Regions from separate parts of the Homo sapiens genome. Here region 1 is linked to region 2. Evidence: fine-mapped expression QTL. Tissue or cell type: pancreas. Region 2 holds a variant in brackets; the other region holds the start of a gene. All regions are shown on one strand. Distances are between the middles of the regions.

Region 1 (4,166 bases), 28 kb before region 2:
ACCCCAAAGAAATGCAAAAAACCCTCAGAGACTATTAGGAGCATCTGCATGCACACATGCTACAAAGCCTAGAAGAAACTGATAAATGCCTGGAAAAGTACAACCTCCCAAGGTTGAACTGGAAAGAAATTGAATGCCTGAGCAAACCAATAATGAGATCTGAAATAGAATCAGTAGTAAAAAACCTACCAAACAGAAAAAGCCCAAGGCAGGAACCTATCATTTCTACCTTAGGTTCCTACCTTGGTCTCAAGTGAGCCCCAGCTGGAAGTTCATACTAAAATTGACACAAGGGGTGCCTGGTCATATCATGTCCAATTTCTTAGCAACCAGCCAGTGAGGGCGTGGGTTCATGAAAAGCAGGTATGGGAGTATAAAGGTCATAAACAGTATAAAGAATTACTGGCTGAGGCTCCCAAAGAAGCCAGCAATCACTCTGAGAAAAAAAGACCTGGAAACCTCAACCTCAGAGAGGACATGCTCAGTGGGATACTGGCATTGCCCATGCAAAGAAAGTGTTGAATATGACTCAAGGAGAAATAATAAAGCAATATACTTTTATCTATGTTGATAAACAGCTGGAAGAGGCTTTAACCCAAGCAAAAATAATGTTGCTTACAAAGCCAAAGTTAAAAAACCCCAAGACCATTACAGTGCCAAATTCTTTTCCCCAGAACGGACTATTACTATCATTCTCCCACTATTGATAAGGAGCTCGTTCACTGACTAGGTCACCAACTACCAGCAATTCGTGATTTTACTTAAATATCAGAACAGGACAGCCTCTGAGTTTTGCTCTAAAAGGTAAAGAAGAATTTCAGCAACTGTCAGAGATCGTCTCTTGTTATCTAGACCTCCCCTGGCTCAGCGTCTGGTTCACTGTAGGTGCCACGAGTTGGGAGCTGACCTAGTTCATAGACTTTAGAGATAAAGAGGGGAGATGTGCGCATCATTTGAAAACAAGTATGTGGCTTACCAGCACACCAGCTTTTTCTTTTCATCCATATATTCCCCTAAGGCCACATGGTGCTCTGGGATTAGAAAATGGAGAAGTACAATATGCTCCACGCTAGGACTAGATGGCTCTTTCTTCTGCCTCCTGGGTTTGGTATTTCTTTAGGGTCATCATGCTACTCTTCTCATCTTCCTGATCTGTGGTTGTTCTGCAACTGCCATACTCTCAGCTGCAATTGAAATGTCCCTGTCTGACCCTGAGCCATACAGATTCAATATGCAGCCTTTCCAAATGACAATCCTAATAAACAGAAATGTATTCTAGCCAACAGTGGGAGATGCAGAAGGAAGCAGCTTCTGTATCCTCTGTGAAGAGATGGTCCTCTTTCCCATTACAAATTTTACAGCACCCATTCCTTTTTTTTTCATAGCACTTGTCACAATTGTTACTATATCAATTATTTGTGTCTCTGATTAGACTGTGAAATCCGAGTAGATTCCATGACTGTCTTATTTATCATTTTACACCAGTATTGGGCTGAAAGTCTAGCAGGCCATCAGTGCCAAAGGTATATTTGTTGAATAAATAAATGAACTCTAGATATTAGGTTTATACTTTAACTTTACAATATATAGTAGTTATTCCTTATTCATGGGGCTATGTTCCAAGACCCCCAGTAGATGCTTGAAACAGTCGATAATACTGAACTCTATATATACAGTGCTTTTTTTCTATACATGCAGACCTATGATAAAGTTAAATTTATAAATTTGGCACAGTAAGATTTTAATAACAATAACTAATAATAAAACAATTATAACAATATGCTATCATAACAATACTATAAAAGTTATGTGAATGTGAACTCTGTCTCCCCCAAAATATCTTACTGTGCTATGCTCACTCTTCTTCTTGTGCTGATGTAAGATGATATAATGCCTATGTGATGAGAGGAAGTGAGGAAAACGACATAGGCATTGTGACATAGCATTAGGCTATTGCTAATCTTCTGACCATAGCTCAGAAGGGGGATCATCTCCTTCGGGTGATGCTGGGTCACTGAGCCATGGTGATGTTAGTGGCTGGATCTCAGAAGCATATGATTTCAATAACTAATGGGCAGGTAGTGTTTACAGTGTGGATACACTGGACAAAGGGATGATTCACATTCTGGGTGTGTGGAGCTGCGTAGTGCAAGATTTTGTGTTACTCAGAACAGCATGCAATTTAAAACTTATGAATTGTTTATTTATGGAATTTTGTGTTTATTTATTTATTTATTTTGAGATGGAGGCTTGCTCTGTCACCCAGGCTGGAGTGCAGTGGCGTGATCTTGGCTCACTGCAACCTCTGCCTCCCAGGTTCAAGTGATTCTCCTGCCTCAGCCTCCTGAGTAGCTGAGATTACAGGCACCTGCCACCACACCTGGCTGATTTTAGTATTTTTAGTAGAGACGGGGTTTCACCATGTTGGCCAGGCTGGTCTCGAACCCCTGCCCTCAGGTGATCCACCCACCTTGGTCTCCCAAAGCGCTGGGATTACAGGCATGAGCCACTGCACCCAGCGTATTTAATATTTTGGACTGTGGTTGACTGTAAGTAACTAGAACTGTGGCTGGGTGGGGAACTACTGCAGATATATTCCTAACAGCTGGTATTTGGAGCACTTTTAGGCATCAAGGATTGTAGTATGTATTTTTTTTAATATTGCCTCACTTAATCTTACAAATGATCTCTTAACTAGACATTTTCACAATTCACATTTTCAAGATGTTGAAGCAGAGATTTGAGTAATTCTTCTAAAATCACACATCTGGGACTGATAAGTCTTACAGAGATTCTAGAACCCAAATTAATTAACCACTCTTCTATATTGTCTCCTGGGACAAAGGGGTTCTGAAATATAGCAAAAATTCTACTTTGAATCTAGTCTGGGCCAGCCAGGAAGAATTAGTAGATGCCAGGGCCTGGGGAGCTAGAACCTATGGTAAGGAAGTGACACTGAAAAAGCTAAAGAATCTTTCTTTCTTTCTCTCTCTCTTTCTTTTTCTTTCTTTCTTTCTCTCTCTCTTTCTTTTTCTTTCTCTTTCTTTCTTTCTTTCTTTCTTTCTTTCTTTCTTTCTTTCTTTCTTTCTTTCTTTCTTTCTCTCTCTCTCTCTCTTTCTTTTCTTTCTTTCTTTTCTTTCACAGACGTCTTGGGACGCAAAGGGCCAAGGCATCAGAAACACTTGGTACCAGCTTCCACAGCAACAATGAGAGGTAACCCCAGTGCTTCCACTACCAACAGGACATTACCACTTGCAGGCAGAGAAACAGACAAGAAAAATAGTGGATGCCACATATTAGGACTCGTCTGAGACATGATGCAAGACTTTTTAGAAAGAATTTGAGGTGAGATGAGGCTGGGCTCTCTGAAGTAGTTCAAGAGAAATACTATTTTGTGGCCCTTATTGGGACTTACTTATAACCTAAGGACCTAGGATGATGCTTGAGTAGCAGGACCAACCAATGTACCAAAGAATGGGCCTCACCCAAAGAGCTTTACAAATTTTATTAAAAATAAGAATGAGACAGAACTCAGCAGTTGTACCTAGATTAGTGACAGAAGATCAGATGAGAATGAAGATGTTTTAGTAGGTTAACATAATAAACGCTCTCCGAGATACCTCATCACTGCTTACCTCTTTTGGAACTTAAAAATAACTTGGAGAAGATATGATCAACTATGAATTGACTAAGTTTCAGTTTCTGTGACCAGGCAAAATAAGGTTCCTAATAGGAATTCAGTTAATTTATAGAAAAAGAAAATTATACTTTTGTAAATATGCCTAGTAGACTGACATATCCCTTACATGACTAAAACCCTATTATGCCAAAACATCTCTTTATTGAATCTCCCCACATTCCCAACCTACTTTCTCTTCTTGCCTCTCTAGTTTAGTGAGTTATATTGGCATCCATCTTTTTATCAGCTTTGAAATCTCAGAATCATCATTCATGGCTTCTCAATATATCATATGGCCAATAAATCCTGCCAATCCTAATTCTAAAATTCACCTTGTATCTCTTCTTTCTTTTTAGTTCTCACTACTAGTGATCAAGTCCTAGATTACTGGAATAGAATAATGTTGCATCAATAGATTGTGTTTATATAAAATTATATATCTGATAACCTGAAAAATATACCTTATTTTCAAAACCACCTAACATTT
Region 2 (4,166 bases):
TTTCTAGTCTGTAAAATCATCCTGAAATGTGCACTAATAACATGGAGACTAAGCAGATGAAATGAAATATGCTGCATACAGCAAAGAACTCAGAGCCTGGCCTTTAGGAAGCCCTCAGTAAGGGTTCATGATGCCATGGTGTCTGTCGTCATCCTCTTTATCCTCATCATCACCTTCATAATCTTTTTGTTGTTCTTAGGGAATAGTTTAGAGGGACTGATTCCCTGCTATCATGGGTGAGATATCTATGAAAAGGACAACCAGTGGGGGAGGAAAGCAAAATTTTGAATAAGATTTCTGAGACCCCCACCACAACCAAGAACAGAAACTCCACAGTCTGCTGAGCAGAGAGTTGCATATTGGTCTCCTCCCATCTACCCACCGCACTCTCCTGTTTGTCTTGAGAATGAGGAAACAAACAAGGCTCCCGACCGTCCCTCAGCACTCACTTGAAGGGGTGGCCTGCCCCTCCACACCTGTGGGTATTTCTAGTCGTGTGGGATGAGAGACTGAGAAAAGAAATAAGACACAGAGACAAAGTATAGAGAAACAACGGTGAGCCCAGGGGACCGGCACTCAGCATACCAAGGACCTGCACCGGCACCGGCCTCTGAGTTCCCTCAGTTTTTACTGATTATTATTTTTATTATTTTAGCAAAAAGGAATGTAGTAGGAGGGCAGGATGATAAAAAGGAGAAGGTCAGCAATGAACATGTGAGCAATAGAATCTATGTCATAATGAAGTTCAAGGGAAGGTACTATGACTGGACATGTATGTAAGCCAGATTTATGTTTCTCTCCACCCAAACATCTCAGTGGAGTAAAGAATAAGAAGGCAGCATTGCTGCAAACATGTCTCGCCTCCCACCATAGGGCGGTTTTTCTCCCATCTCAGAATTGAACAAATGTACAATCGGGTTTTATATCGAGACATTCAGTTCCCAGTGGCAGGCAGGAGACAGCGGCCTTCCTCTCTCTCAACTGCAAGAGTCTTTCCTCTTTGACTAATCCACCTCAGCACAGACGATCTATGGGGGTTGAGCTGGGGGATGGTCAGTTCTTTCTCCTCCCATGAGGCCACTTATCAGACTATCACATGAGGAGAAACCTTGGACAATACGCCTCTTTCAAGGGCAGAGGTCCCTGCGACTTTCCACAGAGTATCTTGCTCCTGGTTTATTGAGACTAGAGAATCGCTATGACTTTTACCAAGTATACTGCTTGGAAACATCTTGTTAACCAGGCACGTCCTGCATAGCCCTAGATCCCTTAAACCTTGATTTCATACAACACATACTTTTGTGAGCTTCAGGTTGGGTCAAAGTGGTTGGTTCAAAGTGACTGGGGCAAAGCTACAGATTAACAACATCTCAGCAAAGCAATTGTTGAAAGTACAGGTCTTTCTCAAAATGGAGTCTCTTATGTCTTTCCTTTCTACATAGACAGAGTAAGTGTCTGATCTCACTTTCTTTTGCCTACATTCACTGAACTGCTCTTCCCCTCTGCTGGGCCACGACCATGGAGAACAGGTTCAACTGTCCTCCCTGCTTGGTGCACCATGGAGGCTCAGACTCCGTCCTCAAGGCTGGCAAGAAGACAGGGTGAGTCATCAGCCCCCTGATACAGGTGACGGGAGTGGAGCCCACAGGACTGCAACCTCACATTGCAGGGCTGGAGGCACAGACTATTTACTATTCTGTGGGCTGGGGGGCTCAAG[G/A]CCCAGAGCTCCTCATTAGCCAAAGTCGCCCAAGTTCCCCAACCTCTAAGGATTTCCTCATAATATTGCAAGAAGAAGAAGAGAAAAGTGAGTGTCCATAGAAGCTTTGGGGCTCTTCCTCTAATCAGGAGAAAGCTGGTGGGTATTCTTCACTTCTTTCTTTACTTTTTAAACATCCAACTGCTTTAATTTTCATCTTTTAATATGGGAAAATATACCACGTATAAATATTAAAAATTATAAATACATATTAGTTCATAGAGAATAGTCTGTATAAATATTTACAGTTTCCACTCTTTTTCAGTTTACAGTTTAACGACATTAAGTAAGTTCACATTGTTTAGCAACCGTCGCCGCCATCGTCTCCGGAACAGTTTTATCTTTCAAAATGGAAATTCCACCCATTCACCAAGCTCTCCATTCCTTTCTCTCGCCCACCCCTGGAGGCCACCTTTCTAGTTTGCAACTCTATGAGTTTAACTACTCTAGACACTTGATAGATAAGCGGAATCATACCTTGTTTAATTTTTTTGTTTTGGAGACAGTCTTTCTCTGTCACCCAGGCTGGAGTGCAGTGGCGTAGTCTGGGCTGACTGCAACCTCCACATCGTGGGTTCAAGCGATTCTTGTGTCTCAGTCTCCCGAGAGGCTGGGATTACAGGCGTGCGCCACCACGCCCTGCTAATTTTTGGATTTTTAATAGAGACGAGCTTTCACCATATTGGCCAGGCTTGTCTCGAACTCCTGACCTGAAGTGATCCGCCTGGCTCAGCCTCCCTAAGTGCTGGGGTTACAGTTGCGAGCCACTGAGCCTGGGCCTGTTTATCCTTTTGGGATTTATTTATTTCACTGACGATAATGTTTTCAAGGTTCATCCATGTTGCGGCCTGCGTCAGAAGTGCCTGTCTGTTTTTTGTTTGTTTGTGTTTTGTTTGTTCGTTTGACTTTGCTTTGTTTTGTGTTCCCATGGAGTCTCACTCTGTCGCACAGGCTGGAGTGCAGTGGCACAATCTGGGCTTACTGCAACCTCCGCTTCCCGGGTTCCAGCGATTCTTGTGCCTCAGCCTACTGAGTAGCTGGGACTATAGGCACACGCCACCACGCTCATTTAATTTTTTGCATTTTCAGTAGAGACAGGGTTTCACCAAGATGGCCAGGCTGGTCTTGAATTCCTGACCTCAGGTGATCCACCCACCTCGGTCTTCCAAGACGCTGCGATTACAGGCGTGAGCAACCACACCGGCCAGAAGTGCCTGCCTTTTGAAGGCTGAATTGTCTTCCATTGTATGAAGGAACTGCAGTGTGCTTTTTCATTCATCTGTCTACGAACCCTTGGGTTGCTTCCACATTTTGGCTGTTGTGAATAATGGTGCTATGAATATGGGTGTACACAAATCTGTCTTCCACTCCTGGCTTCTAATTCTTTTTGGCAGGTACCCACAAATGCAACTGTGGGAACATCTGATCATTCTGTTTCTAATTTTTCCAGTAGACGCCATACTATTTTCCCGGTTCCTTCATGGTTTTACATTCCCTCCGATCACATTCGAGCATTCCTACTTCCCTCTGTTCTAACCAATACCTGTTTGTTTATCATATCCATCCTAATGTGTGGTGTCACATTCTTGGTTTGATTTGCGCTTCCCTATGATGAGTGACTTTGAACATCATTTTAGATGCTTATTGGCCATTACGATATCTTCTTTAGGGACACGTCTACTCGAGTCTTCTGACCATTGTTGATGGGATGCTTTGGGTTTCTTGTTGTTTAGTTCTAGCTGTTCTTCATATATGATGGATATCAGCCTCTTTTCAGATATATGCTTTGCAAATATTTTTCCTAATCCATGGGTTATCTTTTCTCTGAATTTGCAGTGTTTTTTGCTGCACAAAAGTGTCTGTCATTTAGATGTAATCCAAGGAATCTAATTTTCTTTTGTTGCCTATGCTTTTGGTGTCATACCCAGAGAACGTTGCCCAATCTGATGTCATGAAAGTGTGGCCAATGTTTTCTTTTAGGCTTATGATACTTTTAGTCCTTGGGGTTAGGTCTTTGATCCAGTTTGTGTTAATTTTTGCACGTGGTGTGACACAGGGTCCACCTTCATTCTTCTGCATGTGGAAATCAAGTTTCTCCAACACCATTTCTTGAAAAGGCTGCTTTTCCACCAATGAGCTTTCTTAGAACTCATGTGAAAAATCATTTGAACATACAGGTGAGAAGTTATTTCTGGGCTCCAAAGCAAACAAACAAACAACAACAGACACCAGATAAGGATACAGCACGGGCCGGGCGCGGTCGCTCATGCCTGTAATCCCGGCACTTTGGTAGGCCGAGGCGGGCAGATCACCTGAGGTCAGGAGTTGAAGACCAGCCTGACTGACAGGGAGAAACCCGCGTCTCTACTAGAAATAAAACATTAGCTGGGCATGCTGGCACATGCCTGTA

Which allele goes with the higher level. Alleles are on the strand shown, and positions count from the first base shown. SD is a standard deviation of normalised expression in the study named.
With allele A in place of G in region 2, the expression in pancreas of the gene that starts at base 1,890 in region 1 is lower (moderate effect, 0.67 SD a copy in GTEx).

Evidence for each region. PIP is the estimated chance that this variant, and not a neighbour inherited with it, causes the effect.
Region 1: it holds the start of DEFB134, and the variant in region 2 is the best candidate, but not a certain one, in a credible set for the expression of DEFB134 in pancreas (GTEx, PIP 0.68).

Annotation. Positions count from the first base shown.
Region 1 is chr8:11,998,863-12,003,028 of GRCh38, forward strand. DEFB134 (defensin beta 134) reads right to left here and starts at 1,890. Exons shown (of 3, transcript NM_001302695.2): 1 at 1,846-1,890. It overlaps LOC105379245 (a long non-coding RNA gene), which reads left to right and starts at 3,271. Exons shown (of 3, transcript XR_001745644.2): 1 at 3,271-3,345. It also overlaps the pseudogene OR7E160P and the pseudogene LOC100421446.
Region 2 is chr8:12,027,164-12,031,329 of GRCh38, forward strand. It overlaps the pseudogene OR7E160P. Among named protein-coding and RNA genes, the nearest start is that of DEFB134, 28 kb to the left of the region's middle. RefSeq lists an enhancer at 4,091-4,166. The variant G/A (reference allele first, on the strand shown) is at 1,718.